Regions from separate parts of the Homo sapiens genome. Here regions 1, 2, 3 and 5 are each linked to region 4. Evidence: fine-mapped expression QTL. A gene starts in region 4. Each other region holds a variant in brackets. All regions are shown on one strand. Distances are between the middles of the regions.

Region 1 (5,135 bases), 880 kb after region 4:
GCAGCTAGAAATGAATTTTTCATTTCATTTCACTCCATTTAATTTAAATTTAAAACTGAAGCAGCATTTTGGTAAATGTACGTTTTACTTTAACTTATGTTAAGATATTGTTATTGTTTTATTATAGTACACATTTTTCTTATACATTATATATATTATACATACATTATTTCTTATGTGTTATACATAATATTCTTATGTATTATACATAACATATTCTTATGTATTATTTCTTATGTATTATACATAAAAACATCACCAATGTAGCCAGTACCAATGGACTGATTTGGTTTGAATGATTTTTTTCTGTGAACTATGTAACACTGCAATGTGTTTATTTGAATATTTTGTGCAAACAACAAGAGTTATAGTGATACCTACTTAAACCATCCTTCATAATTAAACTTATCCATCCTGCCAATCTCTGCCTTTTAATTGGCGTATTTAGATTAGTTATATTGAAAGTAATGATTGGTGTGCTGGGCTTAAGTTGGCTATTTTATTAATTGTTTACTGTTTGTTCCCTCTGTTTTTCATTCCTCTGTTTCCCCTTTCTCACCTTTCTGTGGGTCACTTGAAAATGTTTTAGAATTACATTTTGACTTTATAGTTTTTTGAGTATATTTCTTTGAATAGTTTTCTTAATGGTTTCCCTAGGTATTACAATATACTTGCATAATTTATCACAGTCTAACAGCGTTGACATTTTACCACTTTGAGTGTAGAAACCTTACTTCCATTAGGTCCTTTCACTCTTTCACTTTTTTAAATTGAAATGTTTGTTCTGCTAATTGTAGATTCACATGCAGTTGTAAGAAATAACAGAGATAGATTCCTTATATGCTGATTCCAGTTTTCCTCAATGGTAAAACTTTAAAAAACTGTATCATAACAGTATAACTAGGATACTGACATTGATACAATCCACAGATCATATTCAGATTTCCCATTGGAATCATTTGCATGTGTGTGATGTATTAAGTTCCATATATATATTATATATATGTATATGTGTATATATACGTGTGTGTGTGTGTGTGTGTGTGTATATATATATATATATATTTTTTTTTTTTTTGAGATAGAGTCTCCCTCTGTTGCCCAGGCTGGAGTGCTGTGGCACAATCTCGGGTCACTACAACCTCTGCCTCCCGGGTTCAAGCCATTCCCCTGCCTCAGCCTCTCAAGCAGCTGGGATTACAGGCTCCCACCACCACACCCGGCTAATTTTTGTATTTTTAGTAGAGACAGGTTTCACCATGTTGGCCAGGCTGTTCTCGATCTCCTGACCTCAGGTGATCCACCCACCTTGGCCTCTCAAAGTCCTGGGATTACAAGCATGAGCCACCACACCCGGCCAAGTTCCATATATTTTTATCTTCTGTGCAGGTTTGTGTATCTACTGCCACAGTCAAGATGCTAAACAGTTCCAACACGACAGGGAGCCCACCTGATGCCTTTTACACCCACATCCACCTCCCTCCCACCTCTGCCAACCACTTTTTAAGATTCTAGACTAACAAGATGACTAATATCCTAAAATATCCTGCATTCTGCAGAGAAACTTGGAATAATGTACAAATTAAATCCATTACTTCTCATCCCTTCAGAAATTATCAAATAATCATAAAAAGGCAGGATATTGAAATTGATGCAATCTACTGATTATATTCAGATGTTCTAATTTTACTGGTATTCATTTGTGTGTGTGTGTGTGTTTATATATTGTTTTCTGTTTTTGTCTTTATTTTTATTATGTGTTTATATATTGTTTTATACAATGTTATCACCTATGTAGGTCATGTACCCACTACTACAATCAAGATATTCAACTGTTCCAAAACACAAAGATCCTCTGTGTTGCTCTCATAACCACATCCTCCTACCTTCCCCTGCCCCCACCCTCTGGCAACCATTTATCCTGGCAATATATATCCATTTCTAAAATTTCGTCATTTCAAAATGTTAGAAAGATGAAATCACACAGTATACAACCTATAGGTGGCTTTTTTTTAATTCAGCATAAT[T/C]CCCTAGCAATTTATCCCTCCCCACCTCTTAAACATAATGTCTTAAGTATTTCCTCCACATACATTGAATATCACATCCAATTGGTATTATAATTTTTTAATCCTGTGATGGGCAGAATAATGCCCACTCTCAAAGATGTCCACATCCTAATAACCCAAAACAGTTAATAGGTTATGTGGCAAAGGAGAAGTAAGGGAGCAGATGGAATTAAGGCTGCTAATCAGCTGACTTTAAAAAGAGAGATTATTCTATACTATCAAGGGGAGCCCAATATAGTCGTAAGGATTCATAAAAGTGGAAGAGCAGTCAGTTCTATGCCCAGAGTCCCAGCTACTGGGGAGGATGAGGTGAGAGGATTGCTTGAGCCAAGGAGTTCCAGGCCACTCTGGGCAATATAGCAAGACCCCATCTCACACAAATGTACAGACGGACAGACAGACAGACAGACAGACAGACATAAGTGTGGGAGAGAGAGACAAAAAAGAAAACCAGAGAGGTAGCAGTGTGAGTGTGAGACGGACTCAACCAACACTGCTGTCTTTGAACGTGGAAAAAAGGTGCCATGAGCCAACAAAAGCAGCTGTCCTCTAGAAAATGGGAGAGACAAGGAAATGCAGTCTCCCCTAGTCTCCAGAAGGAATGCAGCCCTGCTGACACCTTGATTTTAGCCTAGTGAGACTCATTTTGTGCTTCTGCTCTCTAGAACTATCAGATAATACATTTGTATTGTTTAAGCCCTTGTGTTTGCAGTGACTTGTTAGAGCTGCAATAGGAAACAAATTTAAACCATTAAACATAATTTTTAAAACATAAGAGATAAAAAATATTCTATTATAGTTACCCTATTTTTTCTCATTCCGTTGTTCTTTCTTTCTTTCTAAAGTTCTATGCCTGCTGCTATCATTTCCTTTGAAGAATATCCTTAGTCATTCTTTAAAGGTAGGTCAACTGGTAATTCTCTTAGTTTCCTTCGTCTGAGAAGAAATTAAATTTAAATACCCAGTATTGTAACCATAATAAAATCATTTTTATTTTATTTTTTTAATTTTTTTCTTTGTTTTTATTATTATTATTATTACTATTATTATACTTTAAGTTTCAGGGTACATGTGCACAATGTGCGGGTTAGTTACATATGTATACATGTGCCATGCTGGTGTGCTGCACCCATTAACTCGTCATTTAGCATTAGGTATATCTCGTGCTAACCCTCCCCCCTCCCCCCACCTCACAACAGTCCCCAGAGTGTGATGTTCCCCTTCCTGTGTAGCTTAAAAATGAACCAAATTTAAATATAAAATGAATGCATACCACTAATGCAGAATAAAGTGGAGATACAGAAACTAGTACTACAACTGGGCTATTAAAAGAAAAGGACTGGCCGGGTGCAGTGGCTCACGCCTGTAATCTTAGCACTTTGGGAGGCCGAGGCGGGCAGATCACCTGAGGTCAGGAGTTCGAGAGCTGCCTGACCAATATGGTGAAACCCCATCTCTACTAAAAACACAAAAATTAACCGGGCATGGTAGCGGGTGCCTGTAATCTCAGCTACTCAGGAGGCTGAGGCAGGAGAATCGCTTGAACCCAGGAGGCAGAGGTTGCAGTGAGCCAAGATCGTGCCATTGCACCCCAGCCTGGGGGACAGAGCAAGACTCCGTCTCAAAAAAAAAAAAAAAAATGCCGGGCGCAGTGGCTCACGCCTGTAATCCCAGCACTTTGGGAGGCCGAGACGGGTGGATCATGAGGTCAGGAGATCGAGACCATCCTGGCTAACACAGTGAAACCCCGTCTCTACTAAAAATACAAAAAATTACCCAGGTGTGGTGGCGGGCGCCTGTAGTCCCAGCTACTCGGGAGGCTGAGGCAGGAGAATGGCGTGAACCCGGGAGGCAGAGCTTGCAGTGAGCCAAGATCGCACCACTACACTCCAGCCTGGGGGACAGAGCAAGACTCCGTCTCAAAAAAGAAAAAAAAAAAAAGAAAAGGACTGAAAGAAAGCATGTCACAAATTCTACGATGAATGGAAATTGCAATTTGCTGTAACACAGCAAAATGAAAAAAGCTATTTGTGTGTAAAAAATATTTTAAGCAATAAATTAGACAATATTAAGAGACATTTTAAGTAAATACATAATGAATTTGGTAAGACATTTCCCCTTGGAAGTCAAAAAAGAAATCAAAATTGTAGTTCAAAATAGGAGTTGAATATACGACCAAAAAATCCTTAATGCTTCTTAACAGGATCTGAGATTATAATTTTATTTTATTTATGTTTTTAAGACAGAGTCTTGCTGTGTTGCCCAGGCTGGAGTGCAGTGGCACGATCTTGGCTCACTGCAACCTCTGCCTCCCAGGTTCAAGCGATTCTCATTCCTCAGCCTCCCAAGTAGCTGGGACTACAGGTGCACGCCACCAGGCCTGGTTAATTTTTTTGTATTTTTTGGTAGAGATGAGATTTTGCCATGTTGGTCAGGCTGGTTTCAAACTCCTGACCTCAGTTGATTTGCCCACCTCAGCCTCCCAAAATGCTGGGATTACAGGCATAAGCCACCGCACCTGGCCCCTGAGCTTGTAATTTTAGACAGCTAAAAGATGTGTTGGATTCTTACAGAAAGAAAGGAGGGAGGGGAGGAAGGAAACAGAAAAGGAAGGAAGGAAGGAAGGAAGGAAGGGAGGGAGGGAGGGAGGGAGGGAGGGGAAAGGGAGGGATGAAAAATGAAAGTCATTTTAAGTCAGATAGTAAAACAAATTATTTCAGTTGTGGAAATTTTGCTAGAAAATTATGAGAAAAAGACTAAAGAAGATATTTTACAAAAAGTGAAAGACCTTCAACTAAGCCATTAAAAAATGGCCCATAGATTACAAGAACTTTCCAACGATACAGTATCAAAGATCAATTGATTAACAATTTAAAAAATTACAAGTACTTTTCTTTAGCTTTAAAATGGATGATGTGATATAAGAGACAATGTCAGCCGGGCATGGTGGCTCACATCTGCATTCCCAGCACTTTGGGAGGCCAAGGCGGGTGGATTACCTTAGGTCACAAGTTCAAGACCAGCCTGGCTAACATGGTGAAACCCCGCCTCTATTAAAAAAAAAAAAAA
Region 2 (5,000 bases), 26 kb before region 4:
TTTACAAGAAAAAAACATTAAAAAGTGGGCAAAGGGTATGAACAGACACTTCTCTTAAGAAGACATACATGCAGCCAACAAACATGAAAAAAAGCTCAACATCACTGATCATTAGATAAATGCAAACGAAAACCACAATGAGATACCATCTCACACTCGTCAGAATGGCTGTTATTAGAAAATCAGGAAACAATAGATGCTGGTGAGCTCGTGGAGAAAAAGAAATGCTTTTACATTGTAGGTGAGAATGTAAGTTAGTTCAACCATTGTGGAAGACAGTGCAGTGAATCCTCAAAGATCTTGAGGCAGAAATACCATTTGACCCAGCAATCCCAGTACTGAGTATATACCCAAATGAGTATAAGTCACTCTATTACAAAGATACATGCATGAGTATGTTCACTGCAACACTATTCACAGTAGCAAAGACATAGAATCAACCTAAATGCCCATCAACGATAGACTGGATAAAGAAAACACGGTGTGTATATATATATATATATATCATGGAATACTATGTAGCTAAAAAAGGAATGATATCATGTCCTTTGCAGGGACATGGATGGAGTTGGAAGCCACTAACCTCAGCAAACTAACACAGAAACAGAAAATCAAACACTATATGTTCTCACTTATAAGTGGGAGCTGAATAATGAGAACACACGGACACATGGGGGGAAACAACACACACTGATGACTGTTGTGGTTGGGGAGGGAGAACATCAGGAAGAATAGCTAATGGATGCTGGGCTTAATACCTAGGTGATGGGATGATCTGTGTAGCAAATCACCATGGCACACGTTTACCAATTTAACAAACCTGCACATGTAGCCCTGATCTTAAAATAAAAGTTGAAGAAAATAAAATAATGTGTTAAGGTACCTAACCTAAGTCTCCATCTATAACTGGAAGTCAGCTGACACTGTGAAAACAGGAACAGGAGGGAGAAGAGTGCTTTCCAGGCAGGGAGGAAACAAAAATCCTGAGATAAGAAATGACATAATTTTTTCAGAGAAATACACAAACATGGTTTGTTGTTGCTGCAGTCTCTAAAATAAGAGGAACTATGATGCAAGCTAAGAACAACGAATTCTGAGCAAAGAAGCCATGGTAGGGCACATGTTAAGAAAGTTAGATTTTCTCCGGAGTTTGACATCTGTCAAGTATTCACTATAGTTTTATTAAGTTGAAAAGTTGAGCCTGAAATAATTTGGCCATTGGCTTAAATTCAATGACTGTGTTATACTTCACGGCTTTTTTAAAAGCAGGTTTTATCAAAACCAGATTTACTTAGAAAGTCACAGCATAGAAATGTTTTAGGTTATTTTAATCCTATGTTACAGGAACAAAGAGATGGTAGCTGGGGAGGAGTAGAGTTAGCCTCAAAGCACATATCAATGTTTAAAGTATGTGCTTTGCCTGATACCATATTCTCAATAAATGTAAGCAGAAAGGCAATGGCACAAAAACCACATACCTGAGTGTAAGGTGATATGAAACTTGTGATGCACACTAAGCCAGCATCTGCAAACAGTTTAGCAACTTCTGCGATGCGTCGAACATTCTCTTCTCTGTCTTCAGGACTAAAGCCAAGATTTTTATTGAGACCTTGACGAATATTGTCACCATCCAGAGTGTAGCATGGAATACCATGACAAACCAGGTACTCCTCCAAGGCCATGCTCACAGTAGTCTTTCCCGCTCCAGACAAGCCTAAAATTAAACAGTCCAAACAGATTCCATGTGTAAAGTTAGAAGGATAACTATGTAGTAATACTTTTTTTTTCCCAGAAACAAGAGTCTTGCTCTGCCACCCAGGCTGGAGTGCAGAGGCTGCATAGCTCACTGCAGCCTCAAACTCCTGGACTCAAGAGATCATGCCTCAGCCTTCCAAATAGCTAGGACAACAGGCACATGCCACCACATCCAACTTATTTTATTATTTGTAGAGACAGAATTCTCAATATGTTGCGCCAGCTGGTCTCAAACTCCTGGCTCAAGAGATATAAAAAATTGCAATCACAGGATTAAATACATTCATTATGCAAAGCAATCTCTCAGTAATGTTCTTATCTAATATTTCTCTTTAAGATTTACCTCTTGCCTAGGAAAACACCTACAGTTTAAACATAATAAGTGTTTGTTTTAATGAAATATCTATGAGCAAACGTATCAGAAATCACTGATAAACTTCAGAAAGGCTTAACTAATTTTATTAGCAGACATGGT[TG/T]GGAATTCACTTTGTCCTCTCGTTACCACTTTTCTAAAGCTGCATGCCAAATTTTAAAACAAAGTCATATGCCCAAATTATTTCTGGTGAGGGAAGAAAAAGAAAGGACAAAAGAAAGAAATGTTACAAAGGTACCTCCATTTTCCTAGATCATCAGCACTCACAAACCACCTTGATACAATTATCTGGGAGTCCAATTTATAATATAATTAATTTTAATAGAACACCCTCATTTCAACTCACCTTCCTATACCAACAGTATTTACTCAGTAAACAAAGAGAAGGAAAGAGTACATTTATGCACTATTACTTGCCAACTTGGCGAGTGTCATAACCAAGATAGTTCTAAAACAAGAGATAAAATACTAAAGTCTAATGTACCAATGCTCTTGAAAGAATTCATGGTAGTACAGAAGGCTAACTGGAATAAAAAAAAAAATAGAAGAGAGGGCTTTTTTTTGGTTCCATATGAAATTTAAAGTAGTTTTTTTCTAATTCTGTAAGAATATCAAATGGTAGTCTGATGGGAATAGCATTGAATACATAGATTACTTTGGGCAGTATGGCCATTTTCACGATACTGATTCTTCCTATCCATGAGGCTGGAATGTTTTTCCATTTGTTTGTGTCCTCTATTATTTCCTTCAGCAGTGGTTTGTAGTTCTCCTTGAAGAGGTCCTTCACGTCCCTTGCAAGTTGTATTCCCAGGTATTTTACTCTCTTTGTAGCAATTGTGAATGGGAGTTTATTCATGATTTGGCTCTCTGCTTGTCTATTGTTGGTGTAGAAGAATGCTTGATTTTTGCACATTGATTTTGTATCCTGAGACTTTGCTGAAATTATTTATCAGCTTAAGGAGTTTTGGGGCTGAGACTATGGGGCTTTCTAAACATAGAATCATGTTATCTGCAAACAGGGACAATTTGACTTCCTTTCTTTCTATTTGAACACCCTTTATTTCTTTTTCTTGCCTGATCGCCCTGGCCAGAACTTCCAATATTATGTTGACTAGGAGTGGTGAGAGACAGCATCCTTGTCTTGTGCCGGTTTTCAAAGGGAATGCTTCCGGCTTTTGTCCATTCAGTATGATATTGGCTATGGGTTTGTCATGAATAGCTCTTATTATTTTGAGATATGTTCCATCAATACCTAGTTTATTGAGAGTTTTTAACATAGATGTTGAATTTTATCAAAGGCCCTTCCTGTGTCTATTGAGATAATCATGTGGTTTTTGTTATTGGTTCTGTTTATGTGATGGATTACATTTACTGATTTGCATATGTGGAGAAAATTTTTGCAATCTACCCATCTGACAAAGGTCTAATATCCAGAATCTACAAGGAACTTAATACAGAAGAAATAAACAACCCCATCAAAAAGTGGGCAAAGGATATGAACAGACACTTCTCAAAAGAAGACACTTAGGTGGCCAACAAACATGAAAAAAAGCTCAACATCACTGATCATTAGAGAAATGCAAATCAAAACCACAATGAGATATCATCTCATGCCAGTCAGAATGGCTATTACTAAAAAGTCAAGAAACAACAGATGCTGGAGAGGCTATGGAGAAATAGGAACGCTTTTAAACTGTTGGTAGGAAATGTAAATTAGTTCAACCATTGTGGAAGACAGTGTGGTGCTTCCTCAAGGACCTAGTACCAGAAAATACCATTTGACCCAGCAATCCCATTATTGGGTATATACCCAAAGGAATATAAATCATTCTACTATAAAGATACACGCACATGTATGTTTATTGCAGCACTATTTACAATAGCAAAAACATGAAACCAACCCAAATGCCCATCAATGATAGCCTGGATAAAGAAAATGTGGTACATATACACCATGGAATACTATGCAGCCATAAAAAGGAATGAGATCATGTCGTCTGCAGGGACATGGACGGAGCTGGAAGCCATCATCCTCGGCAAACTAACACAGGAACAGAACACCAAACACTGCATGTTCTCTCTCATAAGCGGGAGCTGAACACATGGACATGGAGGGGAACAACATACACTAGGGCCTATCGGTGGGGAGGTGGAGGCCTCCCAGTGGGGGTAGGTAGGGGAGGGAAAGCATCAGGATAAATAGCTAATGCATGTGGGGCTTAAAACCCAGATGATGGGTTAACAGGTGCAGCAAACCACCGTGCCACAAGCATGTAACAAACTGCACGTTCTACACATGTATCCCAGACCTTAAAGAAAAATTTAAAAAAAAAAGAAGAGGAGGATATGTTGAGAGCATCGATACAGTGTCAGTTGCTTTATACATTAAAAACCGATATTAATGACTGTAGCCAGCTGCATTTTCCAAAGATGGCTGCAACTGAATATCCCATCCTACAAGTGTCTACAATGTGACTTTACTACTGTCACATCAAGAGGTACTAATTCCCTGCCCTAAAATGTGGGCTGGCCTTAGGACTTACCTGCAGCCAAAAGAATGTAGTGAAATAGTGACACGATGATGTGTGACTACCAAGGCTAGGTCACAAAATGCTATGCAGCTTTTCTTTGGTCACTTAATTTGGGAGAAGCCAGTGACTAAATCCCTTGAGACCACCATGCTAACGTGATCCCAAGCAGGTGTACCAGCCACTCTCAGCCCGCTAAGCTCCCAGCTGACAACCAGCAGCATCTGAGTAAGTCATCTTGGACATCCTGCCCAGCTGAAACTTCAGATGACTGTGGCCCAGGCCAGCATGACAACAACCAAGCAAGCCCTAAGCATAGCTGCCTATCTGAGCCCTTTTAAATC
Region 3 (5,135 bases), 22 kb after region 4:
AACATCCAGTACCCCAGCAGCTCCTCTGGCACAAGCATGACAGAAATCATGCACAAATTGACAGTGGGGATTCTGGCAGCCCAATTCTCCTTGACAATCACACAGAAAAGTCTGTATGACAATCACACAGACAGGCCTGCGTAGCACTTCAGTTACACAGACTAAGTTCCACAGAGCTGCCTTAACATTGAGCAAATAGTTAAACCTAGGGAAATCAGTGCCCAGACATCAAAGCTAGAAATGAAACGTATGGTCAGTAGGAGCCTTGCATGGGCTTCTCCGTAACCTAGAGCAAACCAAAATAAAGAGACAGTCTTGCATTTCTAGTGCCAGGACCCATCTCGGGTCGATGAAATCTGAGATGAGTCAAGGCATGAGAGGCAGCTGTTTGAATAAATTCATTGGAGCGCCTAAGGCAGATCTCCAGACCAAGCTGTAAGGGAGATAAGATAGAAGTCATCACTGTTGTACCACAGTAGACAGGCCTTGAAGGTACTGGGCCCTTTTAATCAGACTTAGCAAGCATTTTTGTCTCTGATCTTCTAGTCGAAGCAAAATTAGTTACCAATAGGCTTAGGCAAACGCTATACTGCATGTAGGCACATAACCCCAACCTATATAAGCACTAAGAAAATTGTAACACTCTGAGTTGGTCTGGTGGAATTATCTCCGGCCTTCTCCCTGTATCCAGTTACAGCAATAAATTCCATTCTTCCCTAGTTTGTCTGCTTCCCGTTACTGGGCCACGAGAAAACGCAGCCAGACCTGGCTTGGTTCCAGGAACATGTTCCACAGAAAATGAAAGGAGAAAACATGGCATTCAGAAAACAAGAATTTTTACACTGGAGACAACTGAAGGGAATCACCAGACTGATGGAAGGGAATCCCAGGATGACTGTGTGTCCCAGGTCTAGAGGGTGATCAGTGAGATGGCTCTCAGAGAGGTCAGAAGCCCTCAGAGACCTTGTTTGAAAAAAATGAAATTGATAGAGTATCCACTAGGAATAATTATATTAAAAATGATTCAGACAACAGGAAATAGTTCAGGGTTAAATTCGTGATAACTACTTAAAGTCATCAAAAAGGACACATTTGTCCTACCCTCTCTGTACAAACTGTTTTTCAGGGGAATCAAACAGTTGATAAAGGAAAAGTTTGTACTGACAGAAGAATTTTAGCTAATGCAGAAAAAATACTGGATTTATTATTTTTATTTATTTATTTTATTTATTTATTTATTTATTTATTTTTGAGACAGAGTCTCGCTCCGTTGCCCAGGCTGGAGTGCAGTGGCGTGATCTTGGCTCACTGCAAGCTCTGCCTCCCAGGTTCATACCATTCTCCTGCCTCAGCCTCCTGAGTAGCTGGGACTACAGGTGCCTGCCACCATGCCTGGCTAATTTTTTGAAAAATACTGGATTTAAAAAACGCCATTTAAAATACCTTATGAAGTAATATTAACAGATATAGGCAATGATCATCAGTGAGTGCTAAAAAGTATTAGGTGAAAGGTAGGAAAGAGAATTTTATAATGAGGGGATCAGGCTGACACCACCTGCATCCACTGATCAATCTTAGCATCTCTAAAACTGAGATGCTAAATATCTTGTGCCTTATAATGTGACATAATTAGCTGTGCTCAGCATTAATTGTCTTAGTTTGGGTTGTTTAAGAAGCAGGCCTAGGGAGAAGGATTCTAGTACAATAATTTGTTTGGGAGGTGATCCTAGTGGATCTAGTGGAGCAGGAAAGTGTTACAGGGACAGGAAGGAAACCAATAGTGTTTCATCAAAGAGGCATCCTAGGGCCAGACGTGGTGGTTCAGGCCTGTAATCCCAACACTTTGGGAGGTGGATTGCTTGAGCCCAGAAGTTGCTTGAGCCCAGAAGTTGGAGACCAACTTAGCCAACATGAAGAAACCCCCTCTCTACAAAATATGCAAAAATTGGCTGGGCGTGGTGGTGCACACCTGTAGTCCCAGCTACTCGGGAGGCTGAGGCAGGAGAATTGCTTAAACCCGGGAGGTGGAGGTTGCAGTGAGCCATGTTCATGCCACTGCACTCCAGCCTGGGCCAAGCAAGACACCGTCTCAAAAAAAAGACATCATGGGAAACTGAAGCTTAATCCCACTAGGGAACACTAAGAAACAGCATTGAACATATGCCTCAGAGTATATTACCTAAGAGGAGAGGGAGTTGGGGTATTTATGCAACACTCTTCAGTTGTTAGTCAAGGACTACTCTCAGGAAATATTCATTCCCTCATATTTTTGGATTGCATGCACATAGGTCAAGAAGACACTGGTCCCAAAGGAAGCCCTCATGCAAAGAAATGGAACTATTCACAGGTGGAAGTCAGAATGATATTTGCCATGATAGTAGGAATTAAGGGAAAATGGGTAGGCACCAGCAGTGTTTCCTATACTGCCCATGAAGTATTCCTTAAAACAAAAAAAATAGCATGTGTATATTTCTGTAATGTTTCTCTTTTTTTAACACAAGAAGTTACTATTTTTTAAGAAGAGAAAAAACAACAAAGAATTCCACAAGGAAAACTATGCATATGTACACACATGTGTATATGTACACACAAACATTCAGAGGAAAAATATTATGCTACAAGCAAAAGTAATGATGGTTTTACTACATAGCTCAGTTCTAAATCATACA[T/G]AGTCATGATAATGTAAACTATGAATATAAACCTTAACAAGATTGCAATATAACTAGATGGAAAAGTTGAAGGGATATGAGAATAAGTATGTGTGTGGTGGTGCTGGTAGGAGAAGAGAAATAAATTTTCACTTTCTATTGTGAGAAACCAATAACTAATGCTTCTAAGGTCTGAATGTTTGTGTCACCTTAGGATTCACATGTTGAAATCCTACCCCATGCCCAAAGTGATGGAATAGGAGATGGGGCCTACCCATTCAAGTCTCTGGGACTTGCCAGAAGATTTCTAGGTCAGTCTGAGAAAATTACCCCTCTAGTCAAGCAGTTTCATTTTACCAATGACTCAGCAAAACTGTGAAGGTATACCTTCTCCACCAAGGAAATTTACTCGAATAAAAGCATGGTAAGAGGAATAGGGCTTAAAGAAACCTTGAAATATCACTTATTAATTTCATCTGAAGCATTTCCTTGTGGTTAACATAGTCACTTTTTTCCTTAGAAAAAAAGCCCCCAAATAATGAATTTTATAAGTCCAGGTTATTAAAAATTATATTATTAAATTATGGCTTGCCTGTAATTTAAAGGAGCTCTTCACAGTGAGTGGAAATAACTTCCTAGAATTCTAGGTTTCTACCAATTATGTGGCCTTGAGTAAACCATGTAACTTCATGAACCTCAGCTTTCTCATCTGTAAGATAAGGGCTGGAGGTGGATAAATTTATCTCAGGATGTTCTTTCTGCTCTAAAATTATTACAGGTTCTTAATTTAGGTGCCAGTAATATCTGAGAATAGTAATTTAATCAAAACCACAAATGGTCTTTGTACCCCTTACTCTATGTAAAACATTGTCTTAATATTAATAATTTCTATATGTTAAAGTAACTGAGTAGTAAGTAATGAGATGCAGCATGTATTCTTTTCCCTGGCTTCTTTTAGCATAATTATTATGAGATTCATCCAGCGTTTTCATGTGTATCAGTAGTTCACTCCATTTTATTGCTGAATAGCATTTTTATGGATATACCATGATTTGTTTATTCTTTCATCTTTTGATGGACATTTGGGTCATTTCAGTTTGGGGCTATTGCAAATAGAATTGCCATGAACATTCATATACAAATCTTTGTGTGGACATAGGCTTTCTTTTCCCTGGGTAAACCTAGGAGAGGAATCACTGGGCCATATGATAGGTGTATGTTTAATTTTTGTAGAAACTGCCAGAACTGCTTTCCAAAGTGGTTGTACAATTTAACATTCCTCACAGTGACATATAAGAGCTGTAATTGCTCCACATCCTCACCAACACTTGATATGGTTGGTCTTTTTACTCACTGTAGTCATATGCAACAGTTTCTCACTGTGGTTTTAATTTGCACTTCCCTAATAATTGATGATGTTGAACATCTTTTCATGTGCTGATTTCCTATCTACATATCTTCTTTGGTTAAGGGTCTGATTAGATATTTTGTCTTTGTTTTATTCAGTTCATTCTCTTATTATGTTTTTAAAATTATATATCCCATCTCAGACATTTTATTTTTTATCTCTAGAAGTTCAACTTGGGTCTTTTAGAAAATATCTTTCATACCTCTATTTAACATGAACAATCTTCCCCCATCCTTTTGAATTTATGAAATATAACTATTTTAATGTCATTATCTATTAATTATATATGTTTACTTCTTTTTGTATTGATTCATTTTTCTCATTCATACCTTTTTCTTTTTGTTCTCTTCTTTCCTCCTAGTTATTAAGCCTCTGACATTGTGAATTTTACCTTGTTGAGTACTGCATATTTCTGTACTCTATTAAAAAAAATTCTTGAGCTGTGTTCTGGGTCACAGTTAAGTTACTTGGAAATAGTTTGATTCATTCACATCTTGTTTTTAGCAGCTTTTTGTTTAGGGTTAATTTTTCTCTATTACTCAGAACACCGTCTTGAGTACTTTGCCCAATGCCAAAGTTTTCCGCTCTGGCTGGTGGGAACACAAACTCTTTCTGCTGGGTGTGAGCTCCGACATTTTCCCTCTGCTCCTTTTAGGTGGTGTTTTCTCTGGCCTACATTAGTTTTCTCACTTGTCTGTGTTCAGGTGGCCTTTCTATAATCTCCGGAGCTCTCTCTGTGGTAGCTCCCTCTTCGCTGGTAATTTGCCCTATCTCTTGGACCCCAGCTTCATATCCTTAACTCAGCGTAACTGCTGGTTTTTGTCTAGGCTCCTCCTCCCATCGCAATAGCCTGGAAACTCTCTGCAGTTAGTAAGCTGGGGCAATTATAGGGCTTACCTCATTTGTTTTCTCATCTCTCAAGGATCACTGTTCTTCACTGCCTGTTATCCAAAGTCTGAAAACCACTGTTCCACAGAGTATTGTGTTGAGGTTATTTTAGTTGTTTCAGGTGAAGTGTATGTCCCATCCCTGCTACTTTCTTTATCTGCCTAGAAGTTGAAGTTGCCTTTTTTAATACT
Region 4 (5,114 bases):
AAAACTCTCCAGGGCAGTCAAACAAGTTTCGTCAATGTTTCTGGAGTAAAAAAAATAGTAATTTTTATTCCCAACACTTATCCATGCAGTTCCCCTCTGACTCAGAAATCTGAAATCCTCCATAAACCCTCCCAAAACGCCCAGGCGAAACTAATCTCTCCTCTAAATTGCAATAAAACTTCTGTCTTACGCCACTCACTCTGGACCACAAAGACATATTCACCACTTGGCAAATGTCACAACCCCAACACAAACCATGAACTACCAGAAGGCAAGCAGTAAGTCCCACATTTTTCACCACCATGTCTAGCACAAGTCTCTACATAGAATACGCACCATGTGGCAAATGTTAATAAATAAATGAGTACATAAATGGACAATGTAACAGAAATCATCTGTAAATACCCCAAGTAAGCCAACCTTATTTCCCTAACCGTGAAACACCTTAAGGTAAGAGAAGCGAAACTGAGTCTGAGTTTCAAGGCAGTGGTTTCACCGCACATTCAAATTCATGATCTGTCTTCTTTGTTCATCAAAACAATCCCGTGAAGTACATACTATTATACCCTTAAGTCAACTGAGGTTCGAAAAAGTAAAGTGACTCTCCTCAAGATCACACAGCTAGTAAATGGCAAAGCTGGGATGAGAGACCAGGCCAGGAGTCCAGCGCTCTTTCCACTGTTCTAATTCATCTTTTAAATCTCCTTCCCCTCCTTACCATCTATAGAGTTAAATAAAAGGAGAGAGGAATCAGTAAACAACTCATGATAACAATAACAACAGATGTGGTAAATTAATGACTTCCAAAGAACATTTGCCTGAAATTGCTTGTTTTTTTTTTCTTTGATTCATCTAGGGCAAGTAACGTTTTGGGAGACATTGCATTTAAACCTTATTATTCCATTGGACTGTGAAATAACGTTTCCGTCTAAACTTAAACCAGTGCCTTTCCAGACTCCAAAGATGGGCCCTTCCCTGCTGCACACTTACAAAGGAAGATAAGGCTCTTTCTCATCACAGAGAAATTAAGGAAGTAAGCAACGTTATGAGGACACAGCACTTTACAAAGTCAACTGGCAGTCATTACTAAACGTTATAAAGGACTGGTCCCATACCTGACTGTCACCAGGAATGGAGTCTTCCAAACTCCTACTTGTTAAACATTCCGATTTAACACAGAGACACAAAGAACCTCAGTTCAGGGCAGTCTCAACTCATGAATGACCACATTGTTGGGTACTCTCCTTTCACACTGAAACTCAGAAATGGAAAGACACGGAGATGGACCCAAACCTGGGCCAACCGCACTGGCAGAGCCAAGAAAAACCAAGAACGCGTCGAAGGCGCCCGCCTCCGCCTTCTCTGCACATCTTCAGGCCACTCCAAGGTATGCAGGAAGCTCCTGTTTCTGCAGCCGCAGGTTTCAGCACCCGGAGGTTTCAGCAAGCGCCAGTTCACGGGTGAAGGATTTTCCTGGGGGTCTTACCTGAGCGGAGGCGCTGGGGAGGGGGGGCGTTCTTCCCACGAACGGTGGCTCGGACCGCACGCTGCGCCAAGCTAGGGCGAGATCCCCACCCTGCGCCGCGCCCCTCTGCCTCGCAACCACCCACGGCCCCAGCCGGGAGGCGCCGCAGCCCCGGAACCCACCTCCGCGCTCCTGGAAGGATGGATGCGGAGGAGGCGGGAGAGAGGCGGCGGCTCCGGAACGAGCTGCTCCCACAGCCCCTCCGCTCCTCGCCGTCTCGCCTTCGTCCCCAGCTTACCCAGTTCTGCGCGTTATTGCTCAGTTTGACTTTCTTGCACAGGCTCCCGGGGATCTCCATGACCGCGGAGCGCGCTGAGCAGCCGGGGTTCTCTGCGCCGGGAGGGTAGCAAGAGGAGGGCAGGCCAGCGAGCGGGGCGGGGCTGGAGGGCGGGGCCTCCTCGCGTCGGAGCGGGCGCGCGCTGACTTAAGCACGCGCCCGTGCTCGTGGCCTGGGTTGCGCGGCGCATGCGGCGCGCCTCGGAAATGGGTCCGGGGCAGAGGTCTGTGGGGAAGGGCGAAACGCCGGGATAGAACCGGAGGTAGAAGCTGGGGGCGGAGCTTCAGCGCTCGCGCCGGCGCGGGCGCGCACGGCGCTCCTCCTTCCAGATCCCGATGAAGGGGCGGGGCCTGGAATGCAGTCGTGGAACCTCAGGTGCCTCTGCGGCACCGAGCCTAGCTCTGAGCTAACGCAGATCTCTAAGAGCGAGTACCAGCCGCCGGGAGAAAGGCAAGGGGAGTGCGCGGCTCGCCGCGCGCGGCACTCCCTCAGCAGAGGCTGATTGGGAGGACGCTGACGCGGCCTCTTGCACCTGTGGCTACTCCTCCACAGACCTGGCTGCCGACCTCCTGTCTGCCCCTTCTGTGCCCATGTCACCCTGGCCAAATGTTTTAAATGTTTTACAGCTTTGCAAAGGGAAGAATTGATTTACCGAACAGCTCATTCTCCACATTAAAATTCTACTCAAGACACAATTTTTTTTCTTTTTTTGAGACGGAGTCTTGCTCTGTCGCCCAGGCTGGAGTGCAGTAGTAGGATCTCGGCTCACCGCAACCTCTGCCTCCCGGGTTCAAGCGATTCTCCTGCCTCAGCCTCCCGAGTAGCTGGGACTACAGGCGTGTGCCACCACGCCCGGCTAATTTTTGTATTTTTAGTAGAGACGGGGTTTCACTATGTTGGCCAGGCTGGTCTCGAATTCCTGACCTCATGATCCGCCCGCCTCAGCTTCCCAAAGTGCTGGGATTCCAGGCGTGAGCGACAGCGCCTGGCCTCAAGACACAGTTTTTAAAAAGATATAATAAAAGCCCGATTTCTTGACATCAATAATTAATATCTCAACCTGGATTAGTGATTACTTATAAGGTGCCTCCCTCTCCGCTAGGAGACCCCACTTCGCATCAGATTTCTGTGCAGTGCTTCTTACCGACCTACACCGGAAAGGGGCTTCTGTATTATTAAGAGCTACTCAGGAAATACCTAGAGGACTGAAATCCAGGACCGGGGAGGCCGCAGGTAACCCCGAATAGAACTCCCGCCTACGGAGGACATTTTCAAATTCACCTAATTATTCCAGGGCTAGTTCGTAGGAGGATGGGCTGGGGGCATGACAGAGTTTCCTCCAGGAGTTATCTTCCCCACACCCCCCATAACTCTGAGTTCTCTTTTCCGCAGCTTGCCCCTGGCACCAAAAGAGTTGCTTGCAGCTCTGCCCCCCTGTGACACAGCCGCCCTCCGCCCCTGACCCCGCCCATCACCAAGACCTGAGACTGCTGCCTGTTAGTGACTAGCAAATTAGCCCCCATCACCAAGACCTGAGGCTGCTGCTGCTGCCTGTTAGTGACTAGCAAATCAGCCCCCATCACCAAGACCTGAGGCTGCTGCCTGTTAGTGACTAGCAAATCAGCCCTCCATCTATTTGCCCCACTGCTACTGTCTTAAATTAGGCCTCCCCTATATCCAGCCTGAGTTATCATTAAGCCCGTTCACTGGACATCCTCCCAGCTGTGCAGCCGCTCTCCACATCCCCGCCACACACCCCATTCTTGCACCTGCTGTCAGAGCGGTATTTCTGAAACAGAAATCTGATCTTGTTACTTGACTACTTAAAATGTGAATGGTTCCCTTCAGCTTTTTTTCTAGGGAATTTTCAATCTGGGGTTCATACATAGAACTGAATTTCAATATAATTTCAAATTCTGCCAATAACAGGAATGAGCTTGGAAGAAGATCTCAAGCTTCATATGAGAAAATAGGGCCACATCTGAAGTTAGCCATTGCTCTGAGTTCTGGTTCTTATTAGAGGGAAATGGTATTTAGATATAACGATCTGGCTCTAGGAGTGCTCACTGCTGTGAGTTTGACCTTATTTCTAGTAAAAGACTTTTTTTAAGGTAAAATATATCATAAGTTTACATTGATACTGTCCATCCAAATTCATGATTCCAGATATGGGTCATGCAAATGAGCCAGAAACATCAAACAGGAAACATAACAAAAAACTGTCAAAAGCTACTCGGATTATGTCAAAAGGACTCAGAAACCAATTTAAAGAAATTTTTCCATGTCAAAGATGGGAGAATTAAAGCACTAAATGGACTAGAACTACAAAATATTAAAACATATCAAATATGTTTAAATCTAGGTGTTTGTAATGATGATGATTTTAAAAAAAATTATTGTCACTCTTAGAGAATGCTAGGAAACCAACTCATTATTTTGAAAACTGGTAAATAAAGGGGATGAATTAAGCATTTACTCTGCTTTCCCTGGACTGTCTGGGACCCAAAAAATTGATAAAGAGAAGTTTCTCTTTACAGAAGTACCACTAATAAATAAAGAAGAAATGATATCATTTTAATATCACCACTTTTCATTTTCTACTGAAATAATGGATAAAGACAATGATCCTCTGTATTAGTCAGGGTTCCCTTAGAGGGACAGAACTAATAGGATATATACATATGAATGGGAGTTTATTAAGTATTAACTTACACAATCACAAGGTCCTACAATAGGCTGCCTGCAAGCTGAGGAGCAAGGAGAGCCAGTCTAAGTCCCAAAACTGAACAACTTGGAGTCCGATGTTCAAGGGCAGGAAGCATCCAGCACAAGAGAAAGATGTAGGCTGGGAGGCTAGGCCTATCTTGCCTCTTCACGTTTTTCTGCCTGCTTTATATTCCCTGTTAGCGGTTTAGGTGGTGCCAACTCAATTAAGGGTGGATCTGCCTTCCCCAGCCCACTGACTCAAATGTTAATCTCCTTGGGTAACAACCTGACAATGATCAATATTGCATCTTTCAATCCAATCAAGTTGACCCTCAGTATTAACCATCACAAGTCCACCCCTTGACAACTTGAACCCATACACATCTCCTGAGATCATTCATAATCTTCAAATAAGACAATAATAAGGTCATAATTATGTCTAACATAACTGAACTGTCCTTTGTACAACTGGAAATGCAGTCCCCAACTCACATACTATTACATAAAGTTAACAATACTTAAATGCTGATATGAAGTCAGTGAATCTCATATCACATGATAAAGGAAAAGGAAATAAAATGAAGATATTTTCTTAGTACAAGTGTA
Region 5 (5,135 bases), 850 kb after region 4:
AAATAAATAATGTTAGTCCTTTTCCAAACACATGGAAAATGGATAAATCAGTAAAAAAGAATAGAAGAGGCTGGGCGCGGTGGCTCACTCTTGTAATCCCAGTACTTTGGGAGGCCGAGGCAGGCGGATCACTTGAAGTCAAGGAGTTTGAGACCAGCCTGGGCCAAAAGGTGAAAGCCCATGTCTACTAAAAATACAAAAATTAGCCAGGTGTGGTGGTGGGCACCTGTAATCCCAGCTACTTGGGAGGCTGAGACAGGAGAATCGCTTGAACTCAGAAGGTGGAGGTTGCAGTGAGCCGAGATGGCGCCACTGCACTCCAGCCTGGGTGACAGAGCAAGACACCGTCTCAAGAAAAAAAAAAAAAGGACAGAAGAATGGATGAATCAGACAGCACAGGTTAAGCACAATGCCCAGTCTATAGCAGCTTCTGGTAAATGCTAGTTCCAGTGTCACCTCCATTCTGGCTCTGCCACCAACTAATTGACCTTGAAAAGTCATTAAACTCTCTGGACCTCACTTTCTTCATCCGTAAAATGAAAGTGTTGAATTATGTGATCTCTGAGAGCCCTTCTCATCTGTAATTCTATATTTCTAAACCCACCCCCTATATCCTTTGGTTTCCCACCACACCACAGTTTCCAGAAAGGAAAGCAGAAACTCTCCATTGATTCCTACACTGTCAATTATGTTCTATGATCATCAACTCTGTATAAAGACGTGAGGACACACAGATGAATATGTTACTGTCCCTGACCTCTGGAAGCACATAGCTAAATGGTGTAATTCACTATAACACGTATAGGAAGAGCTATGTTTGAGTTACGAACAAATGCTGTGGTAACACATTGGACAGTACTATCACAGAGTTCATAAAATGATTGTTTTAATTTAGCAAATTCGATCAAAAATCAATTGAGTCGTGTGCTTGGCATTACCCCAACGATATAAGTAATAAGTTGGATTTTTCTCTTTTTGACCCTATGCTCTAGGTTTCACTTGGGTATAGCCTAAATATCTAAGAAGAAATGAAAATGGTGCTAAAACTCATCCCTCCTTTTCGGAAGCATGGCTTTATTAGAAAAATCAGCTGTAGAAGTTGTGTCTTGATCTACTTACTGTGGACTTTCCTGAGAACAGCAAGTCCTCTTGCCAACATTTGCCATGCAGATACCAGACTGTGAGTTGAAAGTCTGTACAAAGCAATTTCCAGTGGAAGCAAAGCCATCAGATCCCCTGCAGGCATAGTCAGCAGTATCTCTTTCAACTCACCCGGTCTCAGTGCTGCCCATGGTCCACAAAATAATTCATTTCCACCTCAGCTGCTGAGACCTAAAATTCCCCTATTCTACTTCAACTCTTTGCAAATTGGAACTCATGCTGGTTCCATTTGCTAATGGTGACCACGGCCAGTCCCTCCAAATTCCTGTGTTGACGGACAAAGGCATAACTAAATTTTACCAAACCCTGGAGCTGTTTAGTGTTTTAGGACTCTGAAGCATTTATTTCTGTCCCACATAGAAGCTATTCTCTGCTATGAAATAGAAAGATTTCTTAAAAGAAAGCGTTTGATGACCTAGTTGGTGAAAACAGAAATGATTAAAACTTAGGCAAATAATCCACATATTGCTATTACCTTAATGATTAAAACATGCAGCTCATTAATTTAACCTGACAGTGGGCCCTTTTGTGGGTAGACAACTCATACGTAATGTCTTACTGCAGCTGAAGAGACTTGTCCCATGCCAAGCCTGGCTCCCCATTTCTTTTATTACTGAGAAGGCATTGGTACAATCCAAAATGATTAAAGCAATAGAGATTGAATTGCAGACAAAGAACATCAGACTGGATCAGGAATGGGAAAATAAAACTCCAAACAAGAATGAGACTCAAGGGACTAATGATCAAAGCATTCAAGTTTCCCTTTTTAAAAAAAAAAAAAAAAAGCTGGAATATTCAACTTTCTACTTTATGACACCTCAGAAAAAAAGTTTACATCATCTATTAATACAGTAATGCTTTTTATCTGGGAGGAGTTCTTCCAGGATTCCTAAAAGAGAACCCTTTATATATATATATATGAAATCTTCCAGGATGCCTAAAAGAGATTTTAGGATTTTAGGAATCTTCCAGGATTCCTAAAAGAGAACACTTTATATATATATATATGTATATAACATATATACACATATATGTTATATATTTATATATATGTTTTATACATATATATATATAGA[G/T]AGAGAGAGAGAGAGAGAGAGTACAAAATATGTCAGAGGTGTAAGAAAACTAATGAAACAAAGTTCCTGGATCCAATTCTCCTTGTCCATAGCTACTCCTTGTATGAAACTGGAGAAACTCTTGAACTTCTTTATTGGTAATGATTATTAGTGGAATGGCATCTAACCCATTTAATTATGAATCACAAGAGATCAGCAAAATTTACATGACACAAAAATTACAGAAAAATAAAAGAAAAAATCTTCAAGATTTACTGCCTCCATATGCCTCCATATACCTAACCCATGAAAAAGGAAATTTTCTCATTATAATTATTTCTTTGCACAAAACAAAAGCAAATAATTCAAACCTCCTTATCATTCAAAAAGCAAAGAGTATTTTCTATTGCTAATAGTCAACATTTTAAATACCCATCTTAGGCTGGGTGCGGTGGCTCATGCCTGTGATCCCAGCACTTTAGGAGGCCAAGGCAGACGGATCACTTGAGAACAGGAGTTCGAGACCAGCCTGGGCAACATGGTGAAAACTCATCTCTACTAAAAATACAAAAATTAGCCGGTCATGGTAGTGTGCATCTGTAGTCCCAGCTACTCCAGAGGCTGAGGCAGAAGAATGGCTTGAACCGGGGAGGTGGAGGTTGCAGTGAGCCAAGATCATGCCACTGCACTCCAGCCTGGGCGATGGAGTGAGACTCTGTCTCAAAAAGAAAAAAAAAAAAAAACTATCTTAAATCACTTCACAGTCATCCAAGTTGAACCTTATTCTTTTTCTTCTTAAGATTGAGCTAATCTACTATTAATGGAAACTGTACCCTTAAGTGACATCAGGTTTGCCTACCAAGGAGATTCAGGCCCTCTCTGTTCTGCATCTTCTTTCACATCCTACCCATTCCCAGGAAGCCTTCTTGATCTAACTTATGCTACAGAATATCAGATATCAGATGAGTGAGGGGCACTCTCTGTGGTTCCTGTTGAGATAGATCATATTTTAACTGAATGGGAGATTTAATTCTGGAATTTCACTGTTAGCCAGTTTTTCTCCATAGAAAGGTGATCAAGGCAAATGCTATATGAATATTCTCCTCTTTACTATAGGTGGGTTCTTCTTAAGTCAAAACAAATTTATGGCCAGGTACGGTGGCTCACACCTGTAATCCCAACACTTTGGGAGGCCAAGGAGGGTGGATCACTTGGGGTCAGGAGTTCAAGACCAGCCTGGCCAACATGGCTAAACCCTGTCTCTAATAAAAATACAAAAATTAGCCAGGTGTGGTGGTGCACGCCTGTAATTCCAGCTACTTGGGAGGCTGAGGCAGGAGAATCGCTTGAGCCTGGGAAGAGGAGGTTGCAGTGAGCCAAGATTACACCACTGCACTCCAGCCTGGGCAACAAAGCTAGACTTCATCTCAAGAAAAAAACAAAACAAAATAAAACAAATTTATCGTCCATAATAAAATCGTCAAAGGGGCCAGGTGCGGTGGCTGACGCCTGTAATCCCAGCACTTTGGGAGTCCAAAGCGGGTGGATCACCTGAGGTCAGGAGTTTGAGACCAGCCTGACCAACATGGTGAAACCCCACCTCTACTAAAAATGCAAAAAATTAGCCAGGCATGGTGGCAGGCACCTGTAATCCCAGCTACTCAGGGGGCTGGGGCAGGAGAATCACTTGAACCAGGAGGCAGAGGTTGCAGTGAGCCAAGCTCGCGCATTGAACTCCAGCCTGGATGATAAGAGCAAGACTCCATCTCAAAAAAAAAAAAAAAAAGTCAAAGGAAAACTCTTAAGTGGACTGTGTCTAAAGCAACCCACTATACCCATGTGTTGATAGAAGAGCTGTGTTGCCTATTAAGACAAAGTAACTAAATGGTGATGCCACAATTATTAGTTTTTTATTTGTATAGATGGGGCTTATTTCTAGTTAATACTTCCTCTGGCTTGGGAGAGTCAGTGATAGGATATTGACACCTACGTGTAATGTTTAAGGCAAAATGTTGGTATTTTAGATGAATTCTTTCATTTAAATTTCTCCTTGTGATCTACTGGCTTTACAGTGCATTTATCATGCTTCAATATTAGAACCTTTAGTTTGGGGCTAACAGAAATAGTTCAGCTAATGAAAATAATGATTTTTTCATGCTGTACTACATGGTAATTTAAAGCATTTCAATTAAACAAACTGTCTCATTAGAGCTCCTTGATAATGTAGTTCCATTTGCTTTGATATGGTCAGAAATCCCAAGGATGCTTTTGGGATACTCTCTAACTCTCATATGAACTTGCTTAAGAATGTTACCATACACCAGACATTTTAGAGTATTCAAATGACCTATTTTAAAAATGTTTGAAGCCATTTTATGGTGTGGACCCAGAACAAATTACCCTTATTTAATAAGTAGCTTTCAGTTTGTGTTCCAAAAGTCATCTGAATTCTACCAATGAGGTTTATTTTTTAAAGCTCCATTTTTCTCATATTATAAGATTTGAAAGCACATTCATTCATAAAATTCTCATTCTGGGCCAGCAGCGGTGGCTTAAGCCTGTAATCCTAGCAGTTTGGGATGCCGAGGCAGGCGGATCACCTGAGGTCAGGAGTTCGAGATCAGCCTGGCCAACATGGAGAAACCCCACCTCTACTAAAAATACAAAAATTAGCTGGGTGTGGTGGTGCGTGCCTATAATCCCAGCTACTTGGGACACTGAGGCAGGAGAATCGCTTGAATCTGGGAGGCGGAGGTTGAAGTGAGCTGATATCATGCCACTGCACTCCAGTGACTCCAGTCTGGGTGACAGAGAGAGACTCCGTCTCAAAAAAAAAAAAAAGAAAAAAAATCTCATTCTGTTAAGTCTTTGTTTTTCACAGAATAATCTTATGATGAATATTATAATGTTAAAATTTAC

Which allele goes with the higher level. Positions count from the first base shown, and alleles are read on the strand shown. Sizes are in standard deviations (SD) of each study's normalised expression. Not every link is listed here.
As copies of G replace T in region 5, the expression in B cells of the gene that starts at base 1,878 in region 4 goes up (large effect, 0.79 SD a copy in CEDAR).

The links.
Region 1: its variant is fine-mapped to the expression of PAPSS1 in whole blood (INTERVAL, PIP 0.97).
Region 2: its variant is fine-mapped to the expression of PAPSS1 in whole blood (INTERVAL, PIP above 0.99).
Region 3: its variant is fine-mapped to the expression of PAPSS1 in whole blood (INTERVAL, PIP 0.98).
Region 5: its variant is fine-mapped to the expression of PAPSS1 in B cells (CEDAR, PIP 0.95).

Annotation. Positions count from the first base shown.
Region 1 is chr4:108,599,844-108,604,978 of GRCh38, forward strand. All of the region lies in intron 1 of RPL34-DT (RPL34 divergent transcript), which reads right to left. Among named protein-coding and RNA genes, the nearest start is that of RPL34-DT, 18 kb to the right of the region's middle. The variant T/C (reference allele first, on the strand shown) is at 2,028.
Region 2 is chr4:107,692,293-107,697,292 of GRCh38, forward strand. It overlaps PAPSS1 (3'-phosphoadenosine 5'-phosphosulfate synthase 1), which reads right to left. Exons shown (of 12, transcript NM_005443.5): 3 at 1,479-1,714. Among named protein-coding and RNA genes, the nearest start is that of PAPSS1, 25 kb to the right of the region's middle. The variant TG/T (reference allele first, on the strand shown) is at 2,231.
Region 3 is chr4:107,740,754-107,745,888 of GRCh38, forward strand. No RefSeq gene overlaps it. Among named protein-coding and RNA genes, the nearest start is that of PAPSS1, 23 kb to the left of the region's middle. The variant T/G (reference allele first, on the strand shown) is at 2,670.
Region 4 is chr4:107,718,357-107,723,470 of GRCh38, forward strand. It overlaps PAPSS1 (3'-phosphoadenosine 5'-phosphosulfate synthase 1), which reads right to left and starts at 1,878. Exons shown (of 12, transcript NM_005443.5): 1 at 1,764-1,878. The coding sequence starts at 1,823. RefSeq lists enhancers at 1,131-1,190, 3,181-3,330 and a silencer at 1,821-2,070.
Region 5 is chr4:108,573,318-108,578,452 of GRCh38, forward strand. All of the region lies in intron 1 of RPL34-DT (RPL34 divergent transcript), which reads right to left. Among named protein-coding and RNA genes, the nearest start is that of RPL34-DT, 45 kb to the right of the region's middle. The variant G/T (reference allele first, on the strand shown) is at 2,238.